Homo sapiens: one gene and its partners. The protein of the gene in region 2 interacts with the protein of the main gene of each other region in a pairwise test. Each region holds a gene or a part of one and is shown on either strand. Other genes may lie near its edges.

Region 1 (3,500 bases), on a different chromosome or scaffold from region 2:
TTTTTTTTCTTTTTTGAGACGAACTCTGACTCTGTCACCCAGGCTGGAGTGCAGTGGCGTGATCTCAGCTCACTGCAACCTCTGCCTCCCAGGTTCAAGCAATTCTCCTGCCTCAGCCTCCTGAGCAGCTGGGATTATAGGTGTCTACTACCACACCTGGCTAATTTTTGTATTTTCAGTAGAGATAGGGTTTCATCATGTTGGCCATGCTGGTCTAGAACTCCTGACCTCAAGTGATCTGCCAGCTGCAGCCTCTCAAAGTGCTGGGATTACAGGCGTGAACCACCATGCCCAGCCTGAACACATGTAATTAACACATATAGTAACACATGCTATTTATTTATTTATTTGAGACAGAGTCTAGCTCTGTCACCCAAGCTGGAGTGCAGTGGCACGATCCTGCTCACTGCAACCTCCACCTCCTGGGTTCAAGCGATTCTCCTGCCTCAGCCTCCGGAGTATCTGGGATTACAGGCACCTGCCACCCTGCCCTGCTAATTTTTGTATTCTTAGTAGAGACAGGGTTTCACCATGTTGGCCAGGCTGGTCTCCAACTCCTTACCTCAAGTGATCTGCCCGCCTCAGCCTCCCAAAGTGCTGGGATTACAGGCATGAGCCACCCCACCAGGACAACATATGCTATTTCTATCAGGTTTATTTTTGAAATGTATCTGAAATTTTGGAAGACCATTTAATTTTCCAGAAAGTTTTATCAAGTAAAAAAATGCATTATTACTTAATAAACTATCACTTCATTTCAATTTCCCTTTAGGATTATTAGGTCTTTTCTCTCCTCACAAACTGGAAAGCAAGCTCCCACCTGTAATCCGCTGGGGTGCTCAGAAGTCTGACAGATTCATCATATTACTCCCAACTGTATTCCAACACTCAACTGGGTATTAATTAAATAACCTAGAAATGGCATTCTAAATATGGCACACCTCTTAAATTGGGTTCAAAGTGGCATTTAATGTATTTTCATCATCTTGAGTTGTCTCTAAACAGCTACACTTCAATTGGCCTTTCTTGAAGAGCTTCCTGTGTTATATATTTTACCTTAATATTTAAAACAGCTCGGCTATGAGAGAAATGCTGGTATGTTCTATAGAGCTCAATGAATAAAGCATACATTCTCCCTAGAATGAAAGGATCTTTGCAAATATAAACAGTATTTTTTCAAACAAGGCACTCAATATTTTTATCCTTCCAATTATCTCAGCAGCAGAGAAAAACCAGTGTCACAAGTTCCACTGACTGCAGTCCAAAGCTCACTGAGCGTTTCACAGCAAAAGAGCTTTGTCTTTTAACTCTTACAGTTTTACTTTTTACTCAACAAAACTTTTGAAGGAATTTTCTTTATGAGTAGATGTAACTGCCTTAGCTGATAGAGCAGATGCTGGGATTCCCCAAGATAAAAAGATCCTATGAATCCCCATCAACCCAAATTCTTTTTTTTTTTTTTTTTTGAGACAGAGTCTCACTCTGTCGCCAGGCTGGAGTGCAGTGGTACAATCTCGGCTCACTGCAACCTACGACCCCCTGGTCCAAGCAATTCTCCTGCGTCAGCCTCCTGAGTAGCTGGGACTACAGGCGCATGCCACCACGCCCAGCTAATTTTTGTATTTTTAGCAGAGACGGGGTTTCACCATGTTGGCCAGGGTGGTCTCGATCTCCTGACCTTGTGATCTGCCCACCTCGGCCTCCCAAAGTGCTAGGATTACAGGTGTGAGCCACCGCGCTCAGCCCAACCCCAAATCTTTTCACCTTCTTCCAGACCAACACACAAGACCCGGCACAGAATCACTATAAACTGTGGGCCAAGGAGAGACACAATGAAGCTTGCTGAGCTACCTGCAGGGGACCAATGCACCCATCCTTGAAATCCCTCCAGGAGGGCTAAATTATGGTTTTAAAACAATACACTTGTCTAGAAGAGACATTTATGGGGCCAGGCGCAGTGGCTCCCCGCTGTAATCTCAGCACTTTGGGAGGCCAAGGTGGGTGGATCACTTGAGGTCAGGAGTTCGAGACCAGCCTGGCCAACATAGTGAAACCCCATCTCTACTAAAAATACAAAAATTAGTTGGGCACGGTGGTGCATGCCTGTAATTCCAGCTACTCGGGAGGCTGAGGCAGAAGAACTGTTTGAACCCAGAAGGTGGAGGCTGCAGTGAGCCAAGATTATGCCACTGCACTCCAGCCTGGGTGACACAGCGAGACTCTTGTCTCAAAAAAAAAGACATTTATGGGTATCGATCAGCATCCTGTCTTTGTCGTGGGGAGCTGTTCTATGCACTGAAGGATGCTGAGCAGCATCCCCGGCTTCTACCCAGTCAGCAGTGCATGTACACGCACCCAGTGGTGACAACCAGCAATATCTCAACACTCCCAAATGTCTTCTGGATGGGGCAAAATGAGCCTGGGTTAAGAACCACTAGTAGAGATGCATGCGTGTAGTTTTAGCACCTTTAAATATACCAGTACTTCAAATTAAATATTTAAGGTCATATAAAATATAAATTGTGACTTATGAAATCACAGAGAAAAACAATTTAGTCAGACTTCAACTTACGGATGTTAAAAATCAACATTTATATCAATGTACCCTGCCTGATGAAAACAACTCCTAAATGGTAATACTTCATAAATGTGTATTTCTCACAATAAGAAAAGGAATAAAATGGTTCCACCAGATAATACTGTATATTTTCCAGGAGGCTTCTTTCTCCCAATATCCAAGATTCATATCTTACAAACATCTGTATCTTAAATTTCAGATTTAAGTCTTAAAAAAAGTACTATAGGTGAGGTATGAAATATTTAATGTTTATATCAAAAAGGGCAAATACCATAAACCCACACTGAACTACCCATTTGCACTTTGCCTCATAGTTGAAATAACCTATACATTACCGGAAAGGATCTGACACAAAATTAAGCTGCAGCCACGAGTCCAGGTGGAGCACCTGTCAGGTGGAGGGGAGCACCAATGCCCCTCTGCAACCAGTGTCGCCCAGCACTCCCAGGAGGGCACAGCAGGGCCGCCTCGGGGTCACAACTGCAGCACCAGAGCTCCCAGGGATGCTGTGTTCCAAGTGCTTGTCCTCTCCGCATCTGCTCCCCAGAGCGGAAAAGCTTCCCTTCTGCGTCACACTCTGCTGAAAGTCCTCCCAGTACTTTTGGTACTGGGATAGCACCTTTCTGATCTTTTTGGTTGAGAAAGAGGAGATATGCTAGTCCAGGCAAGGATACGCTTAAAACCTACAGGCTTTAAAGCTAATACTGATTTTTGTTGTTATTCAAATAATGACAAGAACACATACAATTTTTCCTGCACTTCAAGGTAAGCTTTGTTAAAATGATAAGATATCAGGGGGCTCAAACATCGAATACAATATACGAATAAGGGCCACTTTCTAAGGCGGATTTTTCTACAGCAGGTTAAGCATTAAAGTCCCATTTACCACAAGCCAAAAATATCAATTCTGAGTGTGTAAAAC
Region 2 (3,500 bases):
ATTGTTCATTAGGTTCGAAGCCTGAAGAACAGAACAAATTTGTCAGGAAGACAAAGCTCCCAGCGCATCATTCTCTTTCATCAGACACTTTCCATCTTAACCAGCCTTGGTTCTGGACTCCAGCACGCCAACCAACAGTAAGAGCCGGGCATTCGGTCTTTCATACCCTTTTCCCTACATTTTCGCCCCCCCACCCACGAGCTGTGACCTCCACATTGTGACTTAAATCCTGTTTTGGGTTCCTGCTTCAGGAGCGATCTCGCAGCGCCACAGCGCTCTCTCACTGGCTGCTGCGGTTTTGCTGTGTGGAGGCGTTTTGGTTCTTTATTTTAGCTGCTGTCTGCTTTAGCATATTTCATTTAGCATATTTGGTTCCAGTTTTGCTCTATCAATAAATAGCACTGTGGCTGGGCGCGGTGGTTCACGCCTGGAATCCCAGCACTTTAGGAGGCCGAGGCAGGCAGATCGCTTGAGGTCAGGAGTTCGAGACCAGCCTAACCAACATGGTGAAACCCCGTCTCTACTAAAAATATGAAATTAGCCAGGTGTGGTGGTGCATGCCTGTAGTCCCAGCTACTTGGGAAACTGAGGCACAAGAATCGCCTGAACCTGGGAGGGGGAGGTTGCAGTGAGCCGAGATCACACCGCTGCACTCCAGCCTGGGTGACAGAGTGAGACTCTGTCTCAAAAAAGAAGTAAAAATAAATAAATAAATAAATAGCACTATACTGGGCACTTTCTCATGTTAACTTTCCACTTGGGATTATTCCTTTGGACCTGTTGAAAGGAGGTGGCTCAGAGGTGTGGCAAACTCTCTGTGTAAAGGGCCAGTGTGTAAATACTCTCAGCCTTTTCAGACACGGGTGCCTGACGCAACTACTCAGCTCTGCCGCCGTATCATGAAAGCCACCAGTGACACTAGGTGTATGAATGGGCATGGCTGTGTGCCAATAAAACTTTATTGGTCAGGTGTAGTGGCTCACACCTGTAATCCCAGCACTTTGGGGGGCCGAGGCGGGTGGATCACAAGGTCAGGAGTTCGAGACCAGCCTGGCAAACATGGTGAAACCCCATTTCTATTAAAAAATACCAAAATTAGCCAGGCATGGTGGTGGGCACCTGTAATCCCAGCTACTCGGGAGGCTGACGCAGGAGAATCGCTTGAACCTGGGAGGCGGAGGTTGCAGTGAGCTGAGATCACACCACTGCACTCCAACCTGGGCGACAGAGCGAGACTCCATCTCAAAAAAAAAAAAAAAAAAAAAAACCAAAAAAAACTTTATTAACAAAACCCAGCGGCGGGCCTTATTCTGCCAACCCCAGATGTCTGAAGGGAAAAGGCGTCTGTGACATGGCCAAGCTGAGAGGCCCCTTGAAAGACTGGGGCCCAGTCACCCTCCATCCCATGGTGAGGGAGAACATATTCCCCTGGCAGCTTGGCCAGCGGACGAGGGCTACAGTAAGAGGTGTGGCCTCTGCTGAATGGCACGACCCGGGCAGGGCTCCTGGCCCAGCTGGCTCATTTTTCTGACTGACAGTGAGACTGAGGGCTTTTCTCCCCGACAGCCTTAGGCGAGTCCCTGTACCCTGAGGCTGTGGGAGCCTGAAGAGTGGTCCCAGGGCACACAGACCTCCCAGGAAATGAACATGTGTGTGTGGGGGATGGCTCTCCGAGGATCCCAGTCAAGGAACTCCCTGCCAAAGGCCGTCCCTTTGGAAGCATGAGTGCCCGGGCATCGGGAGGTCCACCTGCGCCCGGCGCACCCGGCGCTCTGCTTCCCTTGCCTGAACCTTAGGAGGCAGACGCTGCTGTGTTGTGATCAGTGTCTCTGCACTGCGAGGAGGAGCCCACGCCAGGGTGGGGTGGGGGTGTGACCTCCCTGGGCTCAGCCAGGAGAGCCAGCTTTTGGTGCTCACTACTGATGGGTCTTGCTTGGGACATCAACATTGGGGACACTTTTGATTGTCGAAGCAGAGGGTGGGGGTGCTCCTGACATGGGGCGGGTGAGGCCAGGGGTGCTGCCAGCGCCCTGCGGTGCCCAGGACGACCCCACAGACAAGACCCATCTGGTTCCAGAAGCCAGCAGTGCCAAGGCAAGGAAGCCCTGGCCAGTAGCGGACACAGCAGATGCGGGCCTGGGGGGTGGCGCAGACACCATGGACAGGGAGGAGGGGCGGGCCGTTACCATGCTCATGAAGCCAGGGTTGTTCAGCAGGCCGGCGATGTCGAAGCTGCCCACGCCTCCCGTCTGAGGATGAGAACAGCCCTGGTTAGTGGGGCCTGGACCAGAGGCCACGGTGAATAACCCCCTGGAACTCAGAAACAACGGCCCCCCACGGGGCTCAGACATTCTATCAACCCTGCGGCCAGAGGGTGCTTTGAGGCAGGCAGCACGAAGCACATCGCAACCGCCCGGGGACGGCACAGTCTGTCATCCCGTGTTTATTCCCCGCACAGCGCGACCGCCCGGGGACGGCACAGTCTATCATCCCGTGTTTATTCCCCGCACAGCGCGACCGCCCGGGGACGGCACAGTCTATCATCCCGTGTTTATTCCCCGCACAGCGCGACCGCCCGGGGACGGCACAGTCTATCATCCCGTGTTTATTCCCCGTACAGCGCGACCGCCCGGGGACGGCACAGTCTATCATCCCGTGTTGATTTCCTGTATTCTGCCGCTTTGACACCTTGGGGCCTTGCTGGCCTGGCAGAGCCGCCCCCTCCTGGAGTAGCCAATTCCCAGAGAAAGCAAATGACTCACCCAGAAACGCACCTTTGAAATACAAACAAACTAACCCAGAACCCACACCCTCAGCACCTCCCCCATCACCCCAGGGCCACAGTCCACCTGCCCCACTCACCCCCAGGCCAGGGACCAGGCAACCAGGGGCAGCCCCCAGGCCTGGGTCTAATGAAATGGCTCCAACCAGCCAACCCGAAGCCTCCTCACCCGGCCTCGCCACAAAACCCACATCGAGGGTCCTTTCTGTGCCCCTCCCTCAGCCTCCGCGGGCAGCCCTGCGGCCGGCCTCCTGCTTCCAGGGGTCTGGGGGCATGAACCTTCTCACGACACTCACTTCCACGCCTGTGCATCTCACCACCAACTGAAACAAACCCCGGACCCTCACGACACCCAGGTTAAGCCTAGAGCCACTGGTGCGCCCGAGGACCTGTCCCCCACCCACACAGTCAGCTCGGCGTTCTGGAGCCACTCGCCCCCGCTGCACTCACGGGGCTGGGGGCCTCCCGCAGCTTCAGCTCCGCTATCTTGAGGTTGGACTTGTATGTCTCGTTGTCGGGGTCCAGCTCCAGAGCCTTCTTGTAGTAAGCCACGGCCTCCACGTGCTTGTTGAGGCTGGAGAGCGCCAGGCTGGAGGAGAGCACCGGGGATGGACTGTTCCCATCTGCCCAGCTCCAGGAGGCCCCGCCAAAGCCCTCGTCCCCGGCGGTCCTGGCAACCCCCAAACCACCTCGGATGGTGCCACCCCCTGCCCGCTGT
Region 3 (3,500 bases), on a different chromosome or scaffold from region 2:
TGCTTTCTAGAAGTTAGTATTTATTTAGTGATAGTGATTTAGATGGAAAATATTTTTTAATTTTGAAATCGGACTATATCATTTAGCTGTGTAAATCCAAGTCACAGAATATATCAGTAAAACTAAGAATTTGCTATGTGTACCTCACAAAGCATGGAAAATAATTACACCATGGTCCATCAATGTTGGTTCAATATATTCATCAATACTGCTATTGAGTTTTAAGGACTGGAAAATAGACAAACTTTACCATTGACAGTCAATCCATGTCAGTCTGAATATCACTGGAAAATAACAAAGGTATGCCAGTTTCCACAGTGTTATGAGGATAGTTTGTTACCCTGGGAAAGTGGAGTCTATACCAGCTTAGATTCAAAGAGGAAAGCAGGTCATAGACGAAAGTATAATTTGAAAAGAAAAAAGAATGGCTTCAGGTCCACTTAACCAAAACACTGAAACTTTAATTGAATGAGAATTACATCTGTCAAAGACCTGGGCAGTACACTCCTCTCTCCTCTCTATAGCACTCATTCCTTCTGAGGTGTCATTTCACCAGCCACCTGAGTAAGTGCTCCAGCTATCCCCAGACCAGCTAGAGACATCCCAAGCATGGTCATGTTAGCATCAATGTCCAGGCATACTCAGGGCTCAGAATCGTGGGTTAGTACCACTTTTCCCACTACCCCCTTATATTCCACAAGGGACTCACAGCCAGCAGGTTAACTCTCCCCTCCCTACCCCCACCAAACCCTGGAAAATCACAGACAGCCTTTTTACAGCTCCTCTTTCTCGGCCCCCTTCTTCTGGAAGGCAGTCAGGATGTTTAAGCTCTTCTGGAGCTCCTCCTTCTTCCCGTCACTCATCTTGTTCTTCTCAATCAGCCTGGCGATCCGTGTCATCTCTGATGCTGGGAAGTCCTCCCCTTGGTCTAAGATCTTCCCCATGATCTTCAGGTATTGCTCGGCCCACTTCTTCTGAGTCTCCTTCACACTTGAGAGGTTATCTTGCCCCTGCTTCAAGAGGGCCTGGCGGGCCTCCACACCAGAGGCCCTGATGAACTCCCCGGCCAGGGCGTCGTATACAGGCAGGCAACCAGGCATACCTAGGTAGACCCCTTGCCCCTTCAGCCAGCGCTGGATGGCTCCAACCTTAACTGCCCCAGTGTATGGGACTGGGTTCTCAAAGTCCCCATCCCGGAAGAGGTAGAAGACTGGGTAGCTCTCTTTGTCCAGCTTGTATTTCTCACTCAGCTCCATGTTCAGCTTGTCACCATAATCTGTGAGCAGAAACCAGACACAAAAAGCAAGACCATAAGGAACTCAGGGCAGAAAATTGCTATGGGACCTAGCTGAACTGAGGGAAAGAAGAATTTTCTTGGCCGTGTAATGGTTCAAAGTGAGGAGCAACCATACAGACCTGTGTTTGAATTCCTCCTCTGCCACTTCCTAGCCATGCAGCACTAGGCAAATCATTTAAACTCTCTGAACTGTTCTTCATCTGAAAAAATGGAGATTCTTCTGAATATTTATTATATGCCCACTATGTGTCAGATGCTGTTCTAGGTGCTGGGGGTCTACTTGTGATTAAGAGTATTAAGCTCGGACGGGTGCGGTGGCTCATGCCTGTAATCCCAGCACTTTGGGAGGCCGAGGCGGACAGATCACGAGGTCAGGAGTTCAAGACCAGCCTGGCCAACATAGTGAAACCGCTGTCTCTGCTAAAAATAACAAAAAAATTAGCAGGGCATGGTGGCGCGTGCCTGTAGTCCCAGCTACTCAAGAGGCTGAGGCAGAAGAATCGCTTGAACCCAGGAGGTGGAGGTTGCAGTGATCCGAGATCCCACCACCGCACTCCAGCTTGGGCAACAGAGTGAGACTTTGTCTCAAAAAAAAAAAAAAAAAAAAAAAAAAGACTATTAAGCTCATATTCTTCTAAGGGAGAGAAGAGACATAACAAACACATAAACACAGGTGATGAATGCCACAGGGAAAACAAAACAGCGCGATGTGACAAAGTGGGTAAGAAAGCCCACTTCAGGTGGTCAAGGCAGGCCTCCCTGTGAAGGTGACATCAGCTAAAGGACCTGAATGTCCTGGAGCAAGCTACGTGAAGATTTGGGAAGAGTGTCTCAGGCAGAAAGGACTGCAAGTGCAAAAGCTCTGAGGCAGGGCTAAGCTCAGGAAATTTCAGGATTACAAAGACCAGTCTGGCTGGAGCTGGGTGAGAAAGGGGAGCATGTGGTAGGGAAGGAACACAGTCCCTGCCACATGGGGGCTGTTGGGAGGACCGGATGAGGGAATATGTGCGTGATACTTGGCAGGGTTATATGCTTAATATGTGGTAGCTGCTGTTAGTATCTGCAACATCCTTCCTAACGAGCAGTAGCAGCCCCAAGGACTGATGCTGTGACAACTGGTTTCTTACACTTTGCCGAGAAACGGCTAAGACCAACTACTAGTAGTGGTAGTACTGGATGCCTAGGGTTCCAAACCTAGTTCTGCCACTTAACAATTCCACAATCTTGAGCAAGTTACTCTAAGCATCCATTTCTTCATTTGAAAAAATGGAGGTAATAGTACCACATGGGACTTCCTTCACAGAGCTCTTGCAAAGATGAAACACATGTAAAACACTCAGCACAGCGGCCTGGCACGCAGTAAACATCTGATAAATGTTAACTATTATTATTATTCTAATAAAAGCACCAAGGGAGTTACCTGAAGTTGAGTCAAATCTGACTGACTGTCCTGGAGAGGTGTGCCAGCTATCTCTACCCAGGACCAGACGCTCTACTAAGTTCCCAGCTTACTACGGAATGGAGGCATCCAAGCTGGGAGGGAAGTGAAATAAGTAAGCCCCTGCCTGGGACTAAACACTTAGGTGGAGCTCTGGATGAGCCACTCTATCACCCACAGTCCTTTAATCTTTGAGCTTCAGTTTTTTTTTTCCTGAAGTATAACATGGAGATAATACATCTTGCTTCTCAGGCAGAGTTCAAGTGAAGATTTAAAATGCAATGGGGGTGCAGATCTTTACCCTGTCAGCCACTAAATGCTGGTGACTATTAAAGCTGTCGCTGTGGTTGGGAGGTGCCCTTGGATTAGTGGTGGCATCAGTGCATTTGAGCTAACACCAAAACCTAACAGTTTTGGTACATAAACTGAAATGAAGACAGAAGAACTGACTATGCTGTCCCCTAGGGGACATAGCACCCCCTCTGCCCAGTGTTCCCTGCAAGGAGAGCTCAAAGTTCTCACAGTTTAATGTCAGAGAGGGGTGGAATGTGAAGGAAGAGGGGTTCCCTTCCCTTCAGGCACCTGTACAGCTGAGCTTAGATTCCATGGTCCCAAAATCTGCTCAGGTTAAGCCTACTGTGGGCAGCAGATTCCTTTAGAGACCATGAACCTGTTTACTTACACTCCTTGAGAGTGGCTCAGAAGGAAAGATGCTGGGTATTCCTGTTCCAAGTAGGGAAACGATTTCTAGCTTCCTCCCTCTCT
Region 4 (4,282 bases), on a different chromosome or scaffold from region 2:
TTTCCTCTGAGCCTCAAATTCAGACTCATTTCCTCCATCAAGGCAGAGGAATCATGGGAGGTGCTCATCTGGCCTTACCTTCCAACACAGTGAGGGCCAGGGCCGGCGGGGGCACAGGACCGGAGGTCCCTCAGGGTCGTCGCTGAGAGCAGTGCCTGCACAGTCCTCATAGAAGAGGTGCAGGTAGGAGCGGACCCCATACCACTTGCCATCCTCCACGCTGGGGCCGCGGCTGCAGCTGCAGGAACGATTGCAGCTCGGCATCATGGACCCCTGGGGAGCAGGTAAGGTGCAGCTGACGGAGGGAGGGATTAGTGGGAGCTGCTCATGGTGACCTTCATAAGCCCCCTAAATCTTTGTGCCCCACCCGCTTCTCCTCCCACTCGAGACACCCTACACGCATAGCACAGTCTGGCCTTTTGGAATCCCAGCCTGTCCTTCCCAAAGCACACTGCGAATGAGCCAATGCACTGAAGGCCTTAGCCCAGTGCCTGGCAATTGGAGGTGTCAATAAATGTGCATGTTTACTCTGGAGGCCACCCAGTACCTGGGACTGTGGGCTCTGGAGCCTGACCACTTGGACTGGAGTCGTGGACACACTGCTTCCTGGAGGCGTGACCTTAGACAAGTGCTTCCACCTTTCTGGGTCTCAGTTTCCTCATCTGTAAAACAGACCTAATAATCATACTTCTTTCATACAGTTACTGTGTCTAATGCTGAGAAATGGTAGCTGTTGTGATTAGTACTGTAATTTTTTTGCTATTACTTCCATCTTGAACTTTTTAGTCTCCATATCTGGAATGAGAGAGCCTCACCCTCCGCTCCCCTTCAGACCCCCTCCTGGGGGTAATTGTCATGGCTGACACTTGGGCTGGAGTTCCCAAGCTGCAAGGCTATAAAAAGGTCCTCCCCAGGACTGCCCCTGAAAGCCTCCAGATTCCAATGAATTTTGACTCCATTGGAAGTGAAAGTCAGGGTCCCTCAGGATTAAAGACTCTTAGGCTTAAGGGCTGTTAGATTTCCAGAGAAACCTATCAAATAACCTTTTTTTTTTTTTCCACAAAAGTGGACACGGATCTTGGGAATGGAAGGTACTTGTATATCCATATACAGGTTTGGCCCGAACCAAAGCCAGGAGGTGTTGGGGGAGGACTGGGCTTCTACCCCAGTCTCCATGATGGCCCTCAGCCTTAATTAGCAGCCTCCTGCAAAATGAAACAATGTGCTTGTTCCAAAGGGTAAGATAAAGGTCCTGACAGCTGCCCCTCACTTCCAATCAGATGTGGTCCTCAAATCCCTGCATAGAGAAACTCACCGAAACAGCACAGAGAAACACACAGACATACTCACAAAGCATACAGAGACATACCCAGATAGGTACGACACACACACACACACACACACACACACACACACACACACACACGGTTGGAGGTTCTGCTTGGAGTCACACGGCACACAAGATTGCTGTCAAGAAAGCCTGTCCATAAATAGTGGCTGTACACCCTCCTCACTTACAATTCAGGGAAAAGAAGAGCGGGGAAGGAAAGGAGGAAAAACAACAACAACAAAAGCCACGACAGAGAACGGGAAAAGGCAGAGACTGAAAGCGAAGGACCGTCGGAGGAGGAGGGCGAGAGGTCTGGAGAGGAGGGCTCGCCGGAGGAGGCGGGCGGGGCGGGCTGTGCGGAGGGTGCGGCCAGCGCGGTACCCGCCCCGGCGAGGCGCTGGGGAGGCCCGGGTGGGGAGAAGAAATGGGGCCTGGGGGACGGTAGGAGCCTCCGTGCGGAGACCACTGTTCAAGGCCACAGGTGAGGAGGTGTGGAGGGGGCTTCGGGGCTGTTGACCTGGGTCAGCTCCTCCCCTCCAATTCACCGCTTCCGCGACTCCAAATAGATGGAATCACTCAGTCCTGCTGCTACTGGAGAGGGAAGGTGACCTTGACGCTGCCTCCCGCTCGGCCTGGCCCCTCCGCCTGGCGTTTCAGGGCTGCACGGAGTAGGTCTGGCGGGCGGGGGGCGGGGCGCAGGCACCCGGGACGAGGGTTGCCATGGGAACCGCTAGGGAGGCGTCCCCAGCCCGGGAGCCGGGAGGAGCTCGGTGGGAGGGGAGCGGGAGGCGGAGGGGGCTGCGCTGTCCGACGTGGGGAGACTGCGGCGGAGGGAGGAGGCGAGGGGCGGCAGGCACGGGCGGAAGTGACGGAAGCCAGGGCCCGAAGATGGACGGAATCTGTCGCCTCTGCACAGCCTCATTCAGTTGTGTCCTTCCCAGACCCTCAGACTCGCCCACTACAGCGTCCAGCGCTGCCCGGGCGGGGGAGAAGGGGCGCCCTCCCGGGGGGGATGGGTAGGGGGTGTCGGCCGGGGAAATCAGGCCATTTCCCGCCTCCCTTCCCCACCGGCACCCGCGCCACTCTTCCTGACAGGACCACCGATGCCCTGCTCCACACCAACTGCGTCCTTTTCCCTAGAGAGAAACTGAGGCAGAGAGGGGTAGGAATGGGTTTTTGAAGTGTTGGCGGGGGTGGGGGTGTCCTTTGAAGCCTCTACCCAGCCTATCAACCCTGAGGCGTCGAGGGGCGATGGGGCTGTTTCTGTCTCCCGCCCCTGCTGCTTCCCTGGGACCCCCACCTCCCAAAGCCGAGGCTCAGGCGCAAAGGTCCCGGCCCTGGCGGGACACGGCCCGGGCTGAGGATGCGGGCAGAGCGCGGGGGTTCTCCAGGGGCTGGGGCTGGGGCCTGGCCGCGCGTGGGGCAGGGCTAAGCTCACCTCTCTGCCTGCTGTCTCCGCCGAGCAAAGGCGGGTCCGGTTCGCGCCTGCGCCGCAGTTCGGGGCGGGGGAGGGGGCGCCGGCCCGCCTCAGGGCCTGGCTCTGCAGACGGCGGCCGCCTGCAGCTCCCCCGGCTCCTGTCCCCTTCCAGAGTTCCCTGCTCGCTCGGACACCCCAGCGCCCTCACAGAGACCCCTCGGACTCCCTGGGCCCCAGCCCCTCACGCAGCCCCTCAGACTCCTCACCGAAGCTGCCGTCACTCCCGCAGTTCCCCACCCCTCCCGTGGAAGACCCATCCCTTAACCGAGCCTTCCTCTCCTCGCTGCACCGTCAGTCCCTTTTCCAGGTCTCCATCCCCCTCATGGAGCCCCACCCCAGCGTAGAAACCGCTTCTCCTCGCCGGGCCCCCGCCCTCTTCACAGGCTCCCATCTGTCTCCGGGCTCCTACCGGGAAGTCCCCTCCCACTTGCCTTGAGAGCCGCTAATCCCTCTGGAGTCCTCACATCTCACTCAGTCCCCATCCTCTTTTCATCCTCTTTTCCTCTTTGAGTCCCTACCCATCCCTGGTACGGGATCAGCCCTTGTACCTTGAGAAGGGAGTTTGGGTGGAGGACTCGGGGTTGGGAGAGAAGTGACCTCCACTTTGGAAGGAGCTAATGACAGCCTCCCTTGTTGTTTCCTCCCCTAGCCCCAGTTCTGCCCTGGGCAATGCGTGCCCACTGCCCATCTCCCTGGAGAGCCAGCCTGTGCCAGGCAGCTGCATCTGCCTCCCACCCTGTCATGAGCTGTCAGCCTTGATTTTGTCCCACATTTGCTGTGTGATCTTGGGAAAGTCATTGTGCCCCTCCAACCGTCATCAAGCACCCTTGCACAGACATGCCTTTGTGTCTTGAGCATCTATTCTGTTTCTCCTTGTGCTAGGGGCTGGGGACACACAGAAGAATGAGCTCGGCAAGATAGGGCCACATCTTCCTTTTTAGTTTTTCTTTTTCTTTTTTTTTAATTTTTATTTTTTTGAGACAGCGTCTCACTCTGTTGTCCAGGCTGGAGTGCGGTGGCATGATCACGGCTCACTGCAGCCTCGATCTCCCAAGGCTCAGGTGATCCTCCCACCTCAGTCGCCTGAGGAGCTGGGACTACAGGCACGCACTACCATGCCTAGCTAATTTTTTGTATTTTTAATAGAGACAGGGTTTTGCCATGATGCCCAGGCTGGTCTTGAACTCCTGAGCTCAAGTGATCCACCTGCCTCGGCCTCCCAAAGTGCTGGGATTGTAAGCGTGAGCCACCGCGTCTGGCCAAGGCCACATATTTCTTGTTCGTGTTGTATCTGTGAGCCTCCCATAGTGCTTGGCACTGAGTAGGCAGCCCAGTAAATATTTACTGAAGACAGTCTAATAATAGTAGCAAACTTATTATGCTCACTATGTGCAAAGTGTTTAAGCGTTTTGTATGTTCTATTTACTTACTCATTTAAGTGTGTGTGTGTGTGTGTATGTGTGTGTGTGTGATGG

What was found.
Region 1: the proteins of SGTA (region 2) and NAXD interact in binary tests that used the Homo sapiens proteins (3 or more experiments, as listed by UniProt).
Region 3: the proteins of SGTA (region 2) and ERP29 interact in binary tests that used the Homo sapiens proteins (3 or more experiments, as listed by UniProt).
Region 4: the proteins of SGTA (region 2) and NRSN2 interact in binary tests that used the Homo sapiens proteins (3 or more experiments, as listed by UniProt).

What each region holds. Positions count from the first base shown.
Region 1 is NC_000013.11:110,618,545-110,622,044, reverse strand, and holds part of NAXD (ATP-dependent (S)-NAD(P)H-hydrate dehydratase), read right to left. Parts: intron 1-3,500. UniProt on the Homo sapiens protein: Catalyzes the dehydration of the S-form of NAD(P)HX at the expense of ATP, which is converted to ADP.
Region 2 is NC_000019.10:2,759,274-2,762,773, forward strand, and holds part of SGTA (small glutamine-rich tetratricopeptide repeat-containing protein alpha), read right to left. Parts: intron 3,372-3,500; coding exon 3,233-3,371; intron 2,250-3,232; coding exon 2,187-2,249; intron 22-2,186; coding exon 1-21. UniProt on the Homo sapiens protein: Co-chaperone that binds misfolded and hydrophobic patches-containing client proteins in the cytosol. Mediates their targeting to the endoplasmic reticulum but also regulates their sorting to the proteasome when targeting fails.
Region 3 is NC_000012.12:112,019,926-112,023,425, reverse strand, and holds part of ERP29 (endoplasmic reticulum resident protein 29 isoform 1 precursor), read right to left. Parts: intron 2,851-3,500; exon of another isoform or gene 1,277-2,850; coding exon 774-1,276; 3' UTR 1-773. UniProt on the Homo sapiens protein: Does not seem to be a disulfide isomerase. Plays an important role in the processing of secretory proteins within the endoplasmic reticulum (ER), possibly by participating in the folding of proteins in the ER.
Region 4 is NC_000020.11:345,629-349,910, reverse strand, and holds the start of NRSN2 (neurensin-2), read right to left. Parts: upstream 2,801-4,282; 5' UTR 2,769-2,800; intron 2,493-2,768; coding exon of another isoform or gene 1,897-2,492; exon of another isoform or gene 1,848-1,896; intron 1,812-1,847; coding exon of another isoform or gene 1,526-1,811; intron 1,239-1,525; coding exon of another isoform or gene 1,221-1,238; intron 676-1,220; exon of another isoform or gene 663-675; 5' UTR 548-662; intron 296-547; exon of another isoform or gene 274-295; 5' UTR 268-273; coding exon 79-267; intron 1-78. Other genes in the region: serine/arginine repetitive matrix protein 2-like, read left to right, coding at 1,221-1,238, 1,526-1,811, 1,897-2,492, 2,920-3,243. UniProt on the Homo sapiens protein: May play a role in maintenance and/or transport of vesicles.